Linked DNA regions of Homo sapiens: all the other regions are linked to region 4. The links come from fine-mapping of genetic effects on gene expression. A gene starts in region 4. Each other region holds a variant in brackets. All regions are shown on one strand. Distances are between the middles of the regions. Region 1 overlaps SNPH (syntaphilin). Region 2 overlaps SNPH (syntaphilin). Region 3 overlaps SNPH (syntaphilin). Region 4 holds the start of SNPH (syntaphilin).

Region 1 (5,038 bases), 20 kb before region 4:
TACAAGAGTCACCAAGGGCTGGACCCTGGATTTCCAGGTCATGGGCACCTGCATTTCTACTGCATCATGAAGGTCTCATAATACAGTAGACCTGGGACACTTATCATTCTGCTGCATAAAAGAAAAAACCTACTTTTCCATGAGACTCTAAGATACCACAATGGAGATGAGCAGGTATATACCTGCATTTTGGGCTGGTCATACTTCCATAAAAGCAGGGCATCACAGACATAAGAGGTAAGCATACTACAGAGAGTCGTTTAAAAAGAAATTCTTGGCCAGACACGGTGGCTCACACCTGTAATCCCAGCACTTTGGGAGGCCGAGGTGGGCGGATCACCTGAGGTCAGGATTTCAAGACCAGCCTGGCCAACATGGCAAAAACCTGTCTCTATTAAAAATAGAAAAATTAGCTGGACGAGGTGGTGGGTGCCTGTAATCTCAGTTACTCGGGATGCTGAGACAGGAGAATATCTTGAGCCTGGGAGGCAGAGGTTGTAGTCAGCCGAGATCACGACATTGCACTCCAGCCTGGGCGACAGAGTGGAGACTCCATCTCAAAAAAAAAAAGAAAAAAAGAAAAAGAAATTCCTCATGTGCCTTCTCCCTAACTAGTGACTTTCCCTGTTCCTCTAAGAATCAGCCTCGCAGGCAAAGGAGAAGCCCTTTCCATGAGGAGCACTGCTCTTTCCTCTTCCAACAACTGCTGCGTCCCACCCAGCAGCCCAGCTGCTGTGCAAGCCCACCACTGAGAGACCCTCAGCTCCTCTGAGCCATATCACATCGTCCATCTTGGTGACCTTGGGTCTTTGACCTCTGTTCGTCTCAGCTGTCTCATGCATTCACTCAGGAAGGCGCCACCTTCCTGGCCCTGCTGTCTCTTTGGGATCCAACCAAGGTAATGAATGGAGGGATGGGGGTAGTTCTTGGGAAATTAGAGGACTGAACATTTCTTGCTATCACTATTACCTGTCGAAGGAGATCTCTCTTTTTCCCTTCTTCAGAAATAATTCTTGCTTTATCACCTCAGCGGACATCAGCAGGCCCAGGCATGAGTGACTCTGAAATGACTGGCAAACTCTGCTAGGCCAAGTGACCTGGGCTGGCTTTCCAGGGCAATGTCTGGCAGGCCTCCCGTCTGGGTAGGGAGTAGTAGGGGGAACACTGGTTCCCATGCTTCCACCATCCCAGCTGCTCCACGGCTGCCCCTCTGCAGACACCCATGGAGAAATGTGAGGAACGGAGGGGCAGTGGTGCCAGCCCCAGCTTGGTGGCTGCCTGGCTAGTGGCTCCTGGCAGATGGAGGCCCTTCAGCAACCTTGGCCACAGCATATGCTTCCCTGGGCTTCCTGACTGATAGAGCTGTCAAGCCTCAGTCCGGCTTCTCTCCCTTCCCCCTTCTCCCAAGCTTCCAACTCTAAAGCATCACAGGATGAGGAAAATGGTGAGACTTCCATCCCTAAAAATTCTCATTTTTTCCAGATTTCTGCCTTGATTCTTTGGATCCTGGATGTAAGATTAGGTAAATGCCTAATCCCCTGGCATTTACCCCAGGTACCAACAGGGACTAACACACTCTCAGAATCAGAATGGAAAGGATCTGGAGTAGACCTCATCACAACCTATCATTCTATAGAGAAAGAAACTGAAACCCAGAAAAAGCATGTTAGTTGCCTGAGGTTACCCAGAAAGTCAGGGACAGAGCCTGGGCTTGGGGCTAGACTCCTGAATCTATCAGTGAAGCTTCTGTACCACAACCCTTGCCCTCACCAGGGCAAAAATTAAGAAAAAAAAAAGAACAAAGGGAACCTTTTCAAGTAAAGAAATCTTGGAAGGAAGGCCTACGGGTATGACAGGAGAAGTCCTGACCATTTTAAGGCAGCTCATAAATGACATGCAATAAAATATGCATTGAAACAGAGGCCCAGGGAAGAAGGGAATATCCATGCTGACCACAAATACATGGTGGCAATAATGACATTGAGATTCAATTCCAAGCTTCCTGGCCACTGATGCCAAAAGGGAAAGTATGCTCAGTCTTATTGTTCTCATGGTTATGGGAGGGCAGGAAGAAAATTGGTTCTTTGGGAGAAATAAAGATCTCCCTAAAAGGAATGTTAAAAGGAACACTTTTGCATGGGGTTGGCTGCAGGGCAAGATGATGGTCCACTGGGAGTCGGCAAAGTGGGTCCCAAGGAAAGATGGTGCCCTCAGAGCTCCCCAAAGTTGCCCTGTGTGTGCTGTGCTTTGCTCATGTCAGACTGAAGAACACATGGAACACACAGACCAAAGGACTAAAGGGATGTGGAGATGTCATCTGCTCTGCCTGCGACGACAGCCCCTTTCCACAGACAAAGCCCCC[A/C]CCCAGCCTGAGATCAGAGAGCTTCCTCGTTCCTGGTAATACAAAACAAGAAACCACATAAAACCACTCACGCTGTCTCTTGCACTTGCATTCTCTCCCTGTCACTTGTGCACACACACTCTCTCTTGCTCTCCTGGCATTTCATGACAATCGAGTCCCAACTGCCACATTTTCTAGATAGAAAAGTGAAGACTTGCCAAAGGCCACAATGGAGCCATAGAAGCAGGGCCAGCTCATTCTAATCCCACCAACAGTTCCAGGCATGCCGCTCCTGTTGGAAGCCAAGGTTCATCTATCTTCCTGCAGCTCCCAGGGGCTCAGCAGGGAGACATGGAGCCCAGCGCACCCAACTGTGCCTGTTTTAGCCCAGGAGCCTATCTCACAGCAGCTCCTTCATCTCTCCTCCCAGCTCCCTTCTCCCTCTCCAGCTGCAGCTGCCCTGCTGTCCTCAGCAGCTGATCCCTGTCCACCTGATTCCCCGTGGTACTTCCCATGCCATGCTGAATTCTTTCACCTTCAATAAGATCCAGGGCCTCAACAATGCCCAGTGTGGCTCACACTTGCTGGAAGAGGGTGGGTGATTAATAAATGCCTCTCCTAATAAGTTTTCCTTCTCTGGAGAAGCTGCCCTACCTCTTAATTTAGCCAAAGTGAAGCATTCTAAAATGTTTTAAAAGGGAGATTCTACAAACTACTATGTCCTATTTTAAAGGCCCTTTATCTTTTTTTTTTTTTTTTTTTTTTTTAAGATGGAGTCTCGCTCTGTCGCTCAGGCTAGAGTGCAGTGGCGCAATCTCGGCTCACTGCAACCTCCGCCTCCAGGGTTCAAGCAATTCTCCTGCCTCAGCCAGTAGCTGGGACTACAGGTGCCTGCCACCACCCCTGGCTAATTTTTGTATTTTTAGTAGAGACGGGGTTTCACCATATTGGCCAGGATGGTCTCAAACTCCTGACCTTGTGATCCACCTGCCTTGGCCTCCCAAAGTGCTGGGATTACAGGCATGAGCCACTGCACCCGGCCACCCTTTATCTATCTCAGAACGAGTTTTCCCCTTTTGCTGACAGGCAGACTAACCCGACAGAAAGAAACCACGGCTTGAACATCAAATGTAACTGAATTTTAGATCCAATATGACTGGATTTGGAACTCTGAATTCCAAACTCCACCACCCACCATCTTTATGACAGTGGGAATGCCACTTTACTCCTCTAAGCCTCATTCTCCTTATCTCTCAAATGGGGCTAATTACAGTTGTGCATGAGTATAATCACAATGAGCAATAACACGTGTGAAATGCCTAGCAAGGACCTGGCATAGGGACAGCACTCCGTAAATAGCAGTAATTATTTATTCGCCTGAATATATTCTTATTCTCAATGTTATTCATGTATATTACATCTTTCTCCCTGTCCAAAATCTTAATCTGAAATACTATACTCGTTTGTATCTGAGAGGTTCCTGACTACAGATTCATTTTATGCTTTCTTAAGTCTACTTGCAAAAAAAGAAAAGGAAAGAAAAACCCTAAACCGGTCATTGTCTACCAAACAACAGGATTTCAGGACACCGCCACTTTGGTCTAACAGAGTATCTCAAAATTAACACATCCAAAATATGAATTTCTGATTTTGCCTTAAAAATCTGTTTTTCTGCAGCTTCCCTCATTTCAGTTAATGGCAATCCCATCATTCCAGTCGGGTAGGCCAACACTCTCACGTCTATCAGAAAAGCCTGTCAGCTTTTATTCCCTGCACAGTGTATGCATTTTACAGATAAGGAAACTGAGGCGACACAGTCACAGAATCTGACACCTTTCGGCATCTTCACTGCTCCATCCCTGGTCCAAGCCACCATCTCTCTCCTGGATGATGCAGGTCTCATTATCTCCTACAAACTCTGCCCAGCAGCCAAAGGGATCCTTTTAGAACACAAATTGGATCAGGTCATTCCTCTACTCAAAACCCCTCCAACGGTCCTTCCTTTCAATAGAGGCTAAAGCCTTTTCTTCGGCTGATGTAAAGTTCTGTGCATCCCTCCCCTGACCCCCGCTTATCTCTTTGACCTCATCACCTCTCCCCCTCATTCACTCTGCTCTAGCCACCCTGCCTTCTTGCACATCCCCTCATCAGGGCCTCTGCACATGCTGTTCCTTCTGCCTGGAATGCTCTTCTCCCAGATCTCTGCCCCGTGTATTCTCTCTCCTGCTTCAGGTCTTTGCTCCAAGGTCACCCTCTCAGTGAATCTTCTCTGACCACTGTGTTTAAAATACAACCCCTCCTCCTACAGCACTCCTCTTTCTTCCCATGCTTCGTTTTTCTCCACCGTCCTTAGCAACAGCTAACATATTTATGTATGTATTTATTTTATGTCTTTAGAATATAAGCTCCAGAGAGGTAAGGATGGATGCCCATTTTATGCTTTATTTAGTCCCTTATGCCTAGACTAGTGTCAGGCCACCACAGGCCCTCAATAAATCTTTGCTGAATGAATAAGGGGGTGTGCACTGATCTGGGTTGATGTCACCACCCAAGTAAGTGTAGGCCTCTTAGCAAGTCAACAAAAGGGGGGGAAGAAAGCTTTGTGGTACTTTGTTTATATTATTATAGTCCTTTCTACACACAGTGTTCTATTTAGTGAGCTTGTCTCTCCTGCTAGGTTATGAGCTGGAAGAGTTT
Region 2 (4,628 bases), 26 kb before region 4:
CCACCCCCTTCCCATGTCAGGGCCTCCCCGGAGCCTGGTCATCCCAGCCAGCGGCGGGGCTGCCTCCTGAGTGGACAAAGGCACTACTCAGATGGCCTGTTTCCTGGCGGGGACATAGAACACAGCCTGTTCCCCTGGAGGGTCTGGACACAGCCAGCATTGTCTGCCTGGAGGTGTCGGGTGCTGGGCTGCAGGACCTGCCGACACCACACCTGTCACCTGAGCTTCTTGCCCCAGCTTGGCAATGCTTCCCACTCATTATGCCCCAGTCACCCAGGCAGGGCCTCCTGGAACTGTAGGGCTGGCCCCTAGAGCAGGAACCATGGAGGAGGGGCGATTTGGGGGTAAGAGGACATCAGTGCTCCTCCATGCTTGTGAGGATGGCCATAAATGGCTCACTGCCTCCTGGGCACAGGAGGATCTTGACCAGGAACAGCTTAGGGTGCAGAGGGGCACATGGGCAAGGGCTCCAAGGATCACCTGCCATTGCCTGAATCCTTCAGTGGTAAGGTGGCCATGCTGAGTGCTCTCGTCTGCCTTGGCCCATTACTTGAAGCAGCAATCCTTCAAGGCCGGCTTTGTTACTGCATTTGGGCCCAAGGTCACACAGCTGCAGGTGTGACATGCTCTGGCTTCTGGCCCAGGTCGGCCTGGCTTCACCAACAACTTTCCCACCATCATCCCTGCCCTTCTGGCTTTTGGGAGGATGCAAAAAGGAGGCTGAGCCTTCAGGAGGACTTTCCAGCAGAGGCAGGACTCAGATCTGAGGATGGGCTCTTCCAAGCCAGTGTGAGTGAGTGTTCTAAGGAGCCAGGAAAGTCCAGGCAGAGTGCTAGGCCCAGTCCTGGGAGGCAGGCAAAATGCCTGGTTTGTCTTGGAGCTGCGTGTGGCCTTGCTACAATGAGGGCCTTGTCCCAGCTGTCCCTGCCACTATCTTGCTTGGCTACCCCACACCTGCCTCCTCTTGAGTTCCCTCTTCCTTCCTCCCTGGCCTGGGGGAGGGAAGGGGGTGGCACTTGTACCTGCGTATAGCTAACAGTCTCCTGGGCACCCAGAGCCAGGTATTCATTAGGGACAAAGGTGGAAGACGCATTTCCCCTGCTGGGATGGGACCTTGCAGGCAGGGTCCCTCATGGGAGGGCAGAAGCCACCCAGGCCCAAAGGGAGCCACCTCTCAGGATCCTACTCAGAAAACTCAGTGTGCATCCTGTGCTCTCTCAGGTCCTCCCTCCCTTCTAGGCCCTAGCAAGGAGGCAGGTTGCCATGGTGTTTGTCACCATGCCACCTGCTTAGCCTGGAGTCCCGCAGGCCTCTCCCCAGGTGGCCAGAGGCTGCCACTTGGAAAGGAAGGTAGAAAGAAAACCCTTAACTGTGGGAAGCTGGGCTGATAGTCTCTCATCACTTTAACCCCAGAGTAAACCCAGCCCCTGCCCTCACTGAACTTCCCTCCACTTCCCCATCTTGTCCACACCATAGCAACCCTGCTGCATCCACTCCTTTGACTGCTCCCTCAAATGCTCAACACTTCCTAACCCCCCCGACAATGGGGGTCCAGGGAGCATGAGACTAATGACTGCAGAAGTCAATATGAACTGATCTGGGCTCAAATGCCAGCTCTGGCACCCTTCAGCTGCATGCCTTGGGCAAGTCACCCACTTCTCTGAGCCTCACTGCCCATATCTGTAATAACTGGGGCTCTAATGAATGCA[C/T]CTCATATGGTTACTGTGAGAATAACATAAAATAATGTGAGTATGGGGCTTAGGTCAGTGCCTATCACACAATAAACACTAAAACATGGGGGCAGCCAGTATTTTGGAAGTAACATGAAGTGAGCTTCAAAACAGAAACACATTCAAGCCATAATAGTGTCTTCAGGAGGATCCAGGAACGCTTCTCTACACAAGAAATTTGCACTGGGTCTTGAGGGATGAATAAGAGTTCACCAGGTGGCAGCAGAAAATGGGAGGGAAGGAGAAGTCTGGACACAGGCAGTGAGTGACAGCTGGCTGCTCAGAAACTAGGGAGCCTGTTGAGGGCAGAAGTACAGTGGGAGTGAGGCTGCAGAAGGAGGGGGGCAGGCCACACAGAGCCACTTAAGCCAGGATCTTGTCCTGTGGGCAACAGGAAGCCATGCAAGTGCTTTATAGGAAAGGGGCACAATCATATTTGCATTTTAGAAAGTTCCTGATAAGGAGCCTGTGTGGAGAGGGAGGGATACCAGATACCAGTTAGGAGGTTACCAACCAGGGGAGAAATTAGGAGGGCCTGGGCCAGGGTCATGGCAGGAACAATGGAGAAAAGGGCCTGGACCCTGTTCAAAATTCCTTGGAAGTCCCAGATTAGGTAAAAATCAGAGCAAAGCTCTTGATGTGGGTGCTTAAGGCCCTCTCATCTACAACCTTTCCAACTGGCTCTCTGATACATCCAGGAGACCTCGGCTAGTCACTCCCAAATCTGCATCTCTACATGGGCTGTTTGTCCCATCTGCAGCATCTTCCCTGCCTGTCCTCAGGCATACATTGCACTCTTTCTTTAGGTCCCACCCACAGCCTTTCCACCAGTGACTTCTCCTATCACTTACTGTCTTGACCACTTAGGATGCTATGCCTTAGACTAAAACTCAGGGAACACCATCCCCTGGGAAACTTCATAAAAACAAACACAATCAACACACAACTGTTGGTAATACAATGGTTTAAACAAGCACATTGAATAGACCAAAGAGTCAGATTAGATGGTCTCTAAGGTGCTCTGGATCTAACATTCTCTAATTCTAGAGCTGTCAATGAAATTATGGGCTTCTAATTGATGCTTCTTTCTCCTTCATTACTAGGACTTTCGGGTCTCAGTTTCCACATATGTAAAATTAGGAAGCTCCATTCTTCAAAGAGACATGATAGCATTTTCCCCAATCAACAGTCATGGGGGAAAAACCAGGTGCTTGGGTTAATCTAATATTCCAGCTAAGCAAAAGTCCCTGTATGTACTATAATTTATCTTCTTTCAAAGAATTAGCCATTGATACAAGAAGAAAGCTATCCTAAAATCCGAGGGAACAGAACAATCTGTGTCTGATGACTCAAACCACTGACAGCTGTGGAAAGCAGAGCATTGCAATCAACAGAGCAGAACTTGGGAGGGATCCTCTCTTTGCCAAGGTAACACTAGAACGCAGAACATTCCACCCATCAGACAGCAGAGTGCCTGGTGCTCCTAGAATGCTAATGCAGAGAGGTGGGAATAGAAGACAGGCCTGGGAGTGTTCCAGCAGCCACACTCTAGATCTCAGAAGATTAGCACTACCAGGGCTATTCACAGCTGAGGAGTTCAGTAAACCCTGCACTGGCTATGGCCTCATCAGCCACTATGTGCCTCTGCTCCTCCTTTGTCAACAAAACCTAGGATCTTCCTTCCAGGACTTGCTGGCATTTCTCCAGCTTGCTTCCTGTTTCCCACACAAGCCACCCTCAAAGCTGGGACCACACATGAGGCGCCATCCGACTTCTTCTCACTGTTGTGGCAACCCCAACACAGCGGCAAGGCAGACCCACAACTTGGCCAAATGCTGTGAGAAGCTTCCCCAGGCAACCAGCATAGGTTGAGGGCTGAGGCAGCTGCTACACAGGATGTGTCTCCAGTGATTAGACTCAGATTCCAGAGCTGAAGGGCATCAAGCCTAGGTCTTCAAACCACCCAAGAGGACTTGCCTCTGCACCTACTGGGAGGGGTGGCTTGGGCCTCCTCCCCCATTTCACCTGAAGAGGCTCCTCTCGTATGTGTTTTACATATGGAAGGTGTGAAGTAAGACTACTTTTTAAAAAGGATTTTTCAGGTTAAAAATCTATGGAATACTTATTTTCCACAATGAGATATTGTTTCACATTCACTAGGATGGCTAGCATAAAAAAGATGGACAATAACAAGCGTTGTCAAGGATGTGGAGAAGTTGGAACTCTCATGTATTGCTGGTGGGGATGTAAAATGACGCTGCTGCTATGGAAAACAGTTTGGTGGTTCCTCGAAAAGTTAAACATAGAATTGCCATAAGAACCAGCAATTCCACTGCTAGGTATATACCCCAAAGAATGGAAAATAGATGCTCAAACAAAAACTTGTATAAGAAGTGTACTTCACAGTAGCACTATTCTTAATAGCTAAGAGGTGGAAATAACCCAAATGTCCACCAATAGAAGAATGGATAAACAAAATGTGATGCGTCTATGCAATGGAATATTTAGCTATAAAAGGAATGAAGTATTACTGATCCATGCTACAACACAGATGAACCTTGACAACATTATGCTAAATGAAAGAAGCCAGATACGAAAGGCCGCATATTGCATGATTCCATTTATATGAAATATCCAGCACAGGCAAATGCACACAGACAGAAAACACACTGGAAGGGAAGAAGGAACAGGGAATGACTGGTAATGGGAATGGAGTTTCTTTTTTGGGAAGATAAAAAACGTTTTAGAAGTAGCTAGTGGTGATGGTTATATAATTTTGTGAGTATCCTAAAATCCCTGAATTGTACATTTTAAAAACTTAATTTTTTTTTTTTTGAGACAGAGTCTCACTGTGTCGCCCAGGCTAGAGTGCAGTGGCACGATCTCAGCTCACTGCAA
Region 3 (5,038 bases), 34 kb before region 4:
GAATGCTACCCGTAACCGCCTGTAGTTTAAAACCACAACAAATCCAAACCGGATTGGCTGCTTGGCAGAGCTGTGGTCAAGAACGATGTGGTCATGCATACAGCGTGATCCCATTTATATGAAATGTCCAGAATAGACAAATCCATAGAGACAGAAAAATCAGTGGTTGCCAGGGACTATGGTGGTTGGAGAGAAACTGGCGGTGATTGCTAATGGGAATGGGGTTTATTTTGAGGTGATAGAAATATTGATGAAATTAGAAATTGGCGGTGATTGCTAATGGGAATGGGGTTTATTTTGAGGTGATAGAAATATTGATGAAATTAGAAATTGGCGGTGATTGCTAATGGGAATGGGGTTTATTTTGAGGTGATAGAAATATTGATGAAATTAGAAATTGGCGGTGATTGCTAATGGGAATGGGGTTTATTTTGAGGTGATAGAAATATTGATGAAATTAGAAACTGGCGGTGATTGCTAATGGGAATGGGGTTTATTTTGAGGTGATAGAAATATTGATGAAATTAGAAATTGGCGGTGATTGCTAATGGGAATGGGGTTTATTTTGAGGTGATAGAAATATTGATGAAATTAGAAACTGGCGGTGATTGCTAATGGGAATGGGGTTTATTTTGAGGTGATAGAAATATTGATGAAATTAGAAACTGGCGGTGATTGCTAATGGGAATGGGGTTTATTTTGAGGTGATAGAAATATTGATGAAATTAGAAATTGGCGGTGATTGCTAATGGGAATGGGGTTTATTTTGAGGTGATAGAAATATTGATGAAATTAGAAATTGGCGGTGATTGCTAATGGGAATGGGGTTTATTTTGAGGTGATAGAAATATTGATGAAATTAGAAATTGGCGGTGATTGCTAATGGGAATGGGGTTTATTTTGAGGTGATAGAAATATTGATGAAATTAGAAATTGGCGGTGATTGCTAATGGGAATGGGGTTTATTTTGAGGTGATAGAAATATTGATGAAATTAGAAATTGGCGGTGATTGCTAATGGGAATGGGGTTTATTTTGAGGTGATAGAAATATTGATGAAATTAGAAATTGGCGGTGATTGCTAATGGGAATGGGGTTTATTTTGAGGTGATAGAAATATTGATGAAATTAGAAATTGGCGGTGATTGCTAATGGGAATGGGGTTTATTTTGAGGTGATAGAAATATTTATGAAATTAGATAGTGGTAATGGTTGCAAAATTCTGTGACTAAACTAACAATCATCTAATTGTACACTTTTGATAGGTGAATTATATGGTATGTAAGTTACATTGCAATAAAGCTGCTGTATTAAAAAAAAAAAAGAAAGAAAAGAAAAAAGGAGCGATCATCGTGCCTGCTCTGAGCTCCAGCCCCACACAGCACCTTGGCCAGCTCACAATAGGCTGCATGTTTGCATAGACACAGTCCCGAGAAGGATAGTTAAGACAATGGGAGATCGACGCCCTGAAGTGTAGATCACAAAGATGAAGCCACTGGGCTTGGAGGGTAGAAGCTGGGAGGGTTGGGATTAAGCACTTGAGAATGAGCTCAGACGGCCTGCGGGGGCTCCTGGGAGACACCTGGGCTGGGGAGGAGCTCAGCAAAAGGCTTCTCATCATCATCCTCCACAGCAGGAAGTAGATGGCTTCTGGGGCCTGAAGTCGAGGTTGGCCACAAGCCCTCTGGTGACTCACTCAGGAGGAAGCGAGGAAGGATAAAGAGTTGTTTCTCCCCCAAAAGAGGCAAGTAAGTCAGAAAGAAGCCCTGTGCTCCAACTCCTGGAAGATGGGAGCCAGAGGAAAAGAAGCAGCCAAAGGAGCTGCCAGGCTGAAGCTGGGAAAGGACAGCACAGGCAGGAGGCCCCACAGGACAGGCCCTCATGGGAAACTGCTCCCGCCTGGCCCCCAACAGCCTCGTGGAGCAGTCAAGGTGAGTAGCTGCTGGGGATGAGGGTCTGCAAGTGGGCTCAAATGAGGCTTTGCTGGGAAGGAGAGAGCAGACGGATGCTGGGAGACCCCCAGCCACTCCTCCCTCCAAGAGGCACCCCAGAGCCCTGGTTTCCCTGAGTGTGGAGCTGGTGGGGTACCCCCAGGGCTGCTCGTGGCCACCCGCTCACCGGTCCTGGAGCCGGTCCTGTGTGTCCTTCAGCCGGGCTTTCAGGTGCCGGATGCACACCTCCTTCTGCTGCAGGGGGGTCAGGTACTGCTCCGGGGTCGGGGGCTTGATGCCATGGTTGTCACTGCACAGCGTGTATTTCATGGAGCGCCTGCAAGGGGACGCCCATCATCAGGGAGGGAGGAAGAGGTCAGGCAAGGCACAGGTGCTTTACCTCTGGGGAGCAAGGGGACACCAGCCTCACCATCCCTGGCCACCAGATGCTCCAAGCCAGGCCTCCCACACAAGGCAGGAGAACCCCCAGCCTTCTGGAAGGTGGGTTTTAGTAGAGTTCCTCTAAGTGAAGACCATCATGTCAGGAAGCGGGCTTCAGGGCTCCTCTAGTTAGGGCTGGGTGGGGAGATATATCCCAGAGCATATGTGTAAACCTGGAACCAGGCCAAGCACTTGACCAACGCCATCAATCCTTATAGCAGCCCTGAAGTAGGGACTGTCTTCATCTTTTAGAGGGGCCGCTGGCCTCAGAGAGGTTAGCTCTTGCCCCGAGCCCCTCAGACAATCCCGGTAGTGTGCCCCAGAACCCAGGTACCTCGTCTTCCAACCTGGAGAATGAGTTTGAAGGCTGGAAACTGAGGTGTAAGTGGCAGATGCTGGGTCTGCATGGCAGACAAGGACT[C/T]ACCCCCACACAGCAGGATACATCTCCCAGGTGGAGGCAGAAGCTCTCCTCTCTAGAGCTGAGACCCCTCACAGCCTGGGGACAGGGAGGGCAGACACGCGCAGGCACAGCTGTCTCCATATACGCCCTGGCACTCTCACTCCTCACCCCCACTGCGTACACGTGGGTGAGCACTACATGCACGCACACTTCCTGGGATGTCAATTCCCAGTCCATTCACACCTGCATGCCCACATACATGGAGACACACTTGTGCCTCGCAGGTACTCACACATACTAGGGCACCAGCCCAGGCACATGTTCACACTTTCACCTCCGGGGGCACATGGGAGCACACACGTGAACACCTGCCGGCTCTGGGCAGGGACCTGTCCACTGCAGTACTCTGGGGTGGCAGCAGGCTGGAAGTGCACTGCTCCCAGCACAGGGCGGCACTGACATGGTGCCCTACCAGGGCAAAGGAGAAGGAATTTCCACCCAGAGGGCAGTCAGGTGCCAGTGGAGGAGGGAGGGCCAGGCTTTCACGGGGAAGGAGAATGCCCCAATTCCACAACAGACTATGGCCCAGCCAGCTCTATTCTCAGTGTCCTGGCTGCTGGTTGTTTTGCTCAAACAGAAACCTTGGATCTTGGCTTAAAACCTGGGCATGTATCTCGCGACTAGAGACTCAGGCCTTGTTGCCATCCAACTCTGCTCCTTGAGGGGAGAGTGACTGGCAGGTCTAGGGAGGGGCAATGTCCCTTTATGAGCCTGGAAAAGGCAGGCCCTGGTGAGGCCCATTTGCTGAAGCAGCCGAGCTGGAGGCAATTTTAAAAGTTCCATGGAAGCTGTATGGTGTTTACCGAGGAAAAAGTACTTGTAAGTCGTAAACTGTCAAAGAGAAAGTGGTGATAGAAGTGGAATGAGAAGTGGTTTTCTTCTATGTACTCACGTCATGGCCCCTAGGTCAACTCAAGCCAAGTCACGCAGGTCTCCTCTCTGCTTGGCAAGGGGCGGAGGAGTCACCCCTTGGCAAGGGGTGGTAGGAGTGGGGGACCCAAGGTTAGCTAAACTAGTAAGGATTGAGGATTAGAGAGGAAGTAACTATTTTACATTCTTTTCATTTTGCTTTCATGAATATTTTCCCCGATATAAAATTTAACACGTGTACATTTTTAGTCACTAGCTCTTTGTAAAAAAAAAAATATGTATACACACACACACACACACACACACACACACACACACACACAAATTAGAAAAAAAATACGCTGTGACGCATGTTTCTCAGCTGTTCCTGCCTTGGAAAGCCTGGCTATTTGCAGAGGGGACCTAACTGTGGCCCCACTGCTCACCCAGGGGCAGCAACCCTTGTTGTGGGGAAGAAGACCCTTTGCTGGGAGCAATTCTCAGCCCTGGGGTTGGGATCACCTCCATGGGCTGCAGTTACGAGGTGTGTTACAAAATCTGTTACTAATAGAAAAGATTAAAGTTGCCAATTATATAGTTTTCAAAATGTAAATTAATGCTTTACTCCTATGTCCCCCAGTCTCTGGGGTGGTGTTACAGCCAGGATGCTGGGGCATGAGTCCTGCACATGGGTGTTACCCATCATGTGTGTCACGATAGAAATCTAACAGCTGCTGTTTCAGTGGCTCTGGACATCGCTTCACACAAATGACATCCTCTCCACTGAGTCCTCCCAGGAGGTGCTCCAGCCATGGGAGCCACAGGCTGGGCATCTCCTGGCCTTAAGTCAGATCAAAGCTCTAACAACAGGAGGTATCAGTTATTGGCCAACTAGGATGCACAGGCGGTGTGTAGATATCAAGTCACCGAAGCTTCCGAGTTATTAGCTCCACTTTAAAGAAAGGAAATGGAGGCTCAAGACAGGAAGAGACCAAATCCAGAGCCTATGCTCGTTCCCTACACGCCCCAACCTCCCACTTGTATTTCAATGCTGGGGAAGCAGGACAAGGCCTACCATGACAGCTCTTCCTTCCTGGTCTTCAAGGACCTACAGCTCCCCTACACCTGCTTCTCCAACATGATCCTGCTTTGTGAGTCCGAGTTCACCTCACTCAAGACTACAACTTGGCATCTGCTGCATTCGTAACATTTCGCCTTCCAAGCCAGTTCCACCTCTGCCACTCTCAAAGTGTTCCCCTGAGAAGTGCATGATGGTAGACACTGCAGGCTGCTTCCCAATACTCATCTTGCTTTCTTCCTAGCGGAACCCCCATTTTGTCTGGGGTGGTACTGTTGTG
Region 4 (5,038 bases):
AGCCCTAGAGGAGTAGGCGAAGCATCTGTTAATCACCAACAATAGCAATAATAACAGTAGCTGTAATAGCAATAATAATGACAACCAACAACCTGGACGATGTCCTACACTAAAAAGGGCTTTCACCTACATAATCAACACATTCCTACAGTTTCTCCCTAACCTAGTTGGCTTAGGGACATAATTTCCTCAAGTTTGTTTCATTCAACACTTACGGAGCACCTACTTTGGGCCTACTCATGGGCCAGAGGCTGGAGATAGAGAAAGGAAAATGATAGGGCCTCTGCCAAATAGGAATTTAGGGTGGGGGTGGGGGGACATGACAACTTCTTTTGGCCCAAATGGTGCAGCAGCAAAATTCCCCACCCAACCCTATGGAGAACCTCCTTTATCATGCTGTCAAAAGGCAGGAGGTATCTGGAATAAAGAGGAGCGAGAAAGGCTTGAGTGCTAGGCTGAAAATGACAGCAGGAAGGAAGATAAAGAATCGAAAATACAAGCACCAAAAACTTGACTGCCTGGCCTCAGGGTGACTCTAGGGAGACACTCCAGGGAGGGCAAGAGAGCCACAGTGGGATTCATGTGAGATCCGGAAGACCTGATCCCTGCCCTGCTGCCAGCACACAAGAATCTGCTGCTTCTGTTCCCTCAGAGACTCCGCCCTTGGATGCCAGGATTTTCCAAACCCAATGCTGGGCTACAGTCCTCCTTGGGACCATCATTTGCTAGAATGATGTCACAACCTTTGCAGTGGAAATGTTGCTGCCTGCCTAGGCCCTCAGCCTGGTGACCCAATACACTTCAGCATTCATTACCCCTGGCAGGGACACCATCTGCAGGGGTGTGGAAGAGACAGGCAGGGGATGGGGAGGAGAACAGGACTAAAAGCAGTCACCTCTTCCTCTCTTCCCCCAGCCTATCTCCCAAGTCCTGAGTTCCTGAGAACCTACTATGTGCCAGGCACAGGCACTATTTTAGGTGCTTCCACATACATCTCATTTAATTTTCACATCAGCCCTCTGCGGGCTGTACCCCTAGATTTACAGATGGAGAAACTGAGGCTGGGGGAAGGGAAGTCACTTGGCAGCTCAGGGATGTCAACATAGGACTGTCTGGCACCTCCAGCTCCTTGAGGCCCACAAGGTCAATGTTTCACTTAAGAAGTCAGAGTTGAAAGAGATCAACTGAGGAAACCCCAATTATTTCATGAAACTAAATTTAAATTGCCTTAGCAGAGGGGTCCCCCTGACATGTAAAAGCTGCTTGAGTGATATACTAAAATTATACACATCATTTAATCCAATTCCTGCATCTAACAGATGAGCAGACAGACACCCACGCCTAGAGAATTTTAAAATGGCTACTTGTGGCCAACTAGCAAGTTAAGGGCCTAGAACCCCAATCTCTGGCACTTTCCTTACACGACTCTGCCTGCAGAGATCACCTTTTTCTAAGAAGCTCCTCCAGCCCATCCCGACACCACCAGATGGGCAGAGAAGGCAGAGGAAACGGGCAGCATGTGACCGGCCTCTCTTTCAGTCTGCAGGGTTGGGGAAGGGAATATGGGGCTCCCCAGGCTAGTAGGTGTTGCAAACAGCCCAGATCCCGGCTGGGGAGTGGAAGGCTTCACATCCCAGGGAAGCTCCGGGGAGACGGAGGCTCAGATCGTCCACTCTAGGACTTATGGGCATTTTTTCCCCAGATCTACTGCAGGGCCCTGATGCTTCTCAGAGGGAAAGATGGGATGGAAGCAGTCATTGGCACTTGACCTTGGGGTGGGGGTGGGGTCTCATCCTTCTCCCACCCCCAGGTACCCCTGCTCCTCCTCCAAGAAGGAAAAGAGAAGCTTAAATGTTTGCCAAATGCCAGAAGGGGAAGACAAATAAAATTGGGGGGTGGGTTCCCTAAAAGCCTCCTAATCACCCACTTTGGGCATCTTCTCTGCTGCAATCAGCACCCTCTAATTCTTACATTTCAGGGAGGGGGAGGGAGGGAAGCGCTTAAAGGGATGTAGGGGAATGAAGGGAGGGTAAGAATGAGTCACGATTAACCCCTCTTAGGCTGGTGCCCTCCAAGGGATTCTACCGCAGCGAGCGGTTGCAAGCGGCCCCCACCTGCCGCGGTGCAGCGCAGGGCCAGCTCCCCGCTCCGCCGCGGCCTCCTCACCTGAGTCCACTGGCCCTCCGCAGCCCCGCCGGCTCGCACCACTCCGGCCCGGCTTGGCGCAGCGCCTCTGCAGTCGCTGCTGCAGCCGCCTGGCCCTGATCAGCGACCTGCGGGGTTAGGAAAAAGAGATAGACCGGGGCGGGTGAGCGCGGGCGGGGAACACCCAGGCAGCTGAGCCCCCGGCCGCTGACAGCTGGGCCGCTGCAGCCAGAAGGCTTGGAGGGCAGGCTGCCTGCCGGGTGCTCCGTCCCCTCCTCCTCGCGGCCCGCGGCCCCCACCCCACCCCCTGGCACTCGGCACTCTGGACTGCGGCGGGTGCAGCTGGGCGGTGGGCCCGGAGATCCCCGGGGTCCTTGTCATCACCTGCGGAGGCTTCCATGGCTTCAGCTGCCCTGCAGGGGCCGCCGAATTGCTCTCCCGAGCCCCTGCAGGAGGCGGCTAGCTGGGTGCTCGCCGGGGCTGGGGCTGCCGGGAGGGAGGGGCGGGGAGGGTGAGGTGGATGGAGGGGACCAGCCAGTCGGCGGCTCGCCGGCAGCTGCGTAAGCGGCCCGTCTTTACTTTCCTTCTTAAAGAGATAGTTAGTATCTTGCTCTAGAGGGCCTGGGAACAGAGACAACGAGCACACGGGGAGCGGCGGCCTCTCCCACCTACACACCAGCCGGTATTTTGAGCTGGGCGATCGATTGGGCGTGGTGGAAAGCGTCTTGGTCGGCTGTGTGACCCTGTGCAAGTCCCTTCACCTCTCTGGGCCTCAGCTTTTTCTTCTCTAACATGGGGTGATGATACCAGTCTCACTCCCTGGCACATAGTTGGCTCTAGTGAAATAGTAATTTTTATCTAAAAGCCTTTAGGAACATTTTTCATTGCCCAAACCAAGTCTGAGTACCAGGGGTATTTAATGTGAATGACAAGCACTTGGGCTACTAACAATGATAGCAGGAATCTTAAGTGTCTGAAAATGGAAATGTTTTCCTCTTAAGTAGTAAAAAGGTGAATCATTGGAAAGATCTCGGAGAGATAAACAATCACAACTTAAAATGTTAATTGTGGCTCTTTTCCCTCTGTCTTCCATCTGTCACAGGGAAAACAAGAAGACCAAAAAGTCCAAAAAACTGGATTTTCTGCCTAGCCCTTCCATTTCTAGCCATACAACTTTAGATAAGTTAACTCACTTTCTGGGCTTGGTTTCTTATCTGCTTCATGTGTGGGAAGTAGGTGGAGTGGGAATGGGCTCCTTCTTTCTGAACCAGGCCTGTCTGATCTGTCATTACTCTGCTCTAAACCATCCAGTGGTTTTCTGTATCGCTCTCCGCCACATGCCCTCATCTTACTCCAGCTCTCTGACTTCATCTTGCGTGGCTCTCCCCATCACTCACTTTTCTCCCATCAAGCTGTCCTTCTTGCTGAGGCCTCACTGCTGGGCCTTTGCATTTGCTGTCCCCTTTGCCTAGAACACACCAGAGAGCCACATGGTTCAATCCTTCCTTTCCTCCAGGTCTCTGCTCAAATGTTACTGTCTCAGAGAGGGCTTCCTTAACCATTCTACATAAAATACTAACTCCCTCCTCTCCACCTCCTTTGCCCCTAGTTTTGCTACACTTAATTACCAGCTGACATAGTGTATATTTACTATGTGTCATTTATCACTCCCACTAGAATGTACACTTCATGAGGGAAGGAACTTTGTTTTTTTCCCTTGCTGTATTTCCAGTGCCCAGAGCAGTGCCTAACACATAGTAGGAGCTCAATAAATATTGACTAAGTGAATGAGAAAGCAAGCACACATTGTGCCAGGCCCCAGTCTTCTATGGGAACACTAGGCCAGATGCCATCCTGGAAGTCCTTTTGTCTTAAGTCTCTTAAGGCTCTTAAGTCCTTAAGTCTGTTTACTCTCGCCGGTGCTGAACTTGGTACCCTCTACTCTCTGCCCCAAGCTGACTTTTCCAAGAGAAGAATTTGTAAAGTGACTTCACTGATTTACATCATGACTCTGCAGTACTGGCCTGGTGAGAAACAGTTAATATTGATAATGTACATGAAAAAATAATTATTTTAAGTTTACTGTTGCTTTTCACAGTCAAATCTTTTCCTGTATCTCTGAGCTGCAATAAATCCATTACTTTTTTTGCAACAAATGCTAATAAATTTTGGAGAGGACATTGATTCTATTTTCTCCTGTATTCCGTTAAACCATATCCTATCAGATAGCCATTATTATATTATGTTTTCTAGAAAAACATGGCAGAGCAATTTAGCAGGAATAGGAAACTAGTTGAAAAAGCCATGTGAAATGTTGAGGTCTTCTGTCCAAAACACCTAATGCTATATTAGCAAGTTAATTGATAAAATGTTTTATCTGCTCTAATGCTCACTGAAATTATATAAGTGACATTTTTACACTTAAAAGTGAAACCAAAGGAAGCCATGTAATTATTACATGTTTAGAAGGAGAACATTTCTGAGATTGTCATTAAAATATTTTTTTGTCTGTTCCCATGCTGTTTTGTTTATTAATAGAGATGGGGCTTTACTATGTCGCCCAGGCTGGTCTCCAACTCCTGGGCTTAAGCAATCCTCAGCCTCCCAAAGTGCTGGGATTACAGGCTTGAGCCACCATGCCTGGCTGTCCCATCCTCATGTGTGTATGTGTGTGGGGTTTTGTGTGGGGGTTTTTTTGGGTTTTTTTTTTTTTTTGCTTGGTACTTAGAAGACTACATTTCCCAGAAATCTCCACAAGGAACTTCCCCAAAGCAAGACAGTGACTTCACTCACATTACTCCCATCTGGAATGGTGTTAGCTAGTAAAGTATTCTCTTTATCATCAGGAAGCAGATGATTGAGAAGAGAACTGGTGTTTAGTTATAATGTAAAT

What was found. PIP is the estimated chance that this variant, and not a neighbour inherited with it, causes the effect.
Region 1: its variant is fine-mapped to the expression of SNPH in blood mononuclear cells (TOPMed, PIP above 0.99). The same link has a PIP of 0.9 or more in T cells.
Region 2: its variant is fine-mapped to the expression of SNPH in whole blood (INTERVAL, PIP above 0.99).
Region 3: its variant is fine-mapped to the expression of SNPH in whole blood (TOPMed, PIP above 0.99). The same link has a PIP of 0.9 or more in aorta, lung, sigmoid colon and visceral fat.

The regions. Positions count from the first base shown.
Region 1 is chr20:1,284,160-1,289,197 of GRCh38, reverse strand. All of the region lies in intron 2 of SNPH (syntaphilin), which reads right to left. Among named protein-coding and RNA genes, the nearest start is that of SNPH, 20 kb to the right of the region's middle. The variant A/C (reference allele first, on the strand shown) is at 2,363.
Region 2 is chr20:1,290,149-1,294,776 of GRCh38, reverse strand. The region is part of intron 2 of SNPH (syntaphilin); the gene reads right to left. Among named protein-coding and RNA genes, the nearest start is that of SNPH, 26 kb to the right of the region's middle. The variant C/T (reference allele first, on the strand shown) is at 1,710.
Region 3 is chr20:1,297,791-1,302,828 of GRCh38, reverse strand. SNPH (syntaphilin) reads right to left here. Exons shown (of 7, transcript NM_001318234.2): 6 at 2,118-2,267. Among named protein-coding and RNA genes, the nearest start is that of SDCBP2-AS1, 25 kb to the left of the region's middle. The variant C/T (reference allele first, on the strand shown) is at 2,793.
Region 4 is chr20:1,263,889-1,268,926 of GRCh38, reverse strand. It overlaps SNPH (syntaphilin), which reads right to left and starts at 2,633. Exons shown (of 7, transcript NM_001318234.2): 1 at 2,530-2,633; 2 at 2,167-2,273. RefSeq lists silencers at 2,138-2,217, 2,318-2,397 and an enhancer at 2,798-2,947.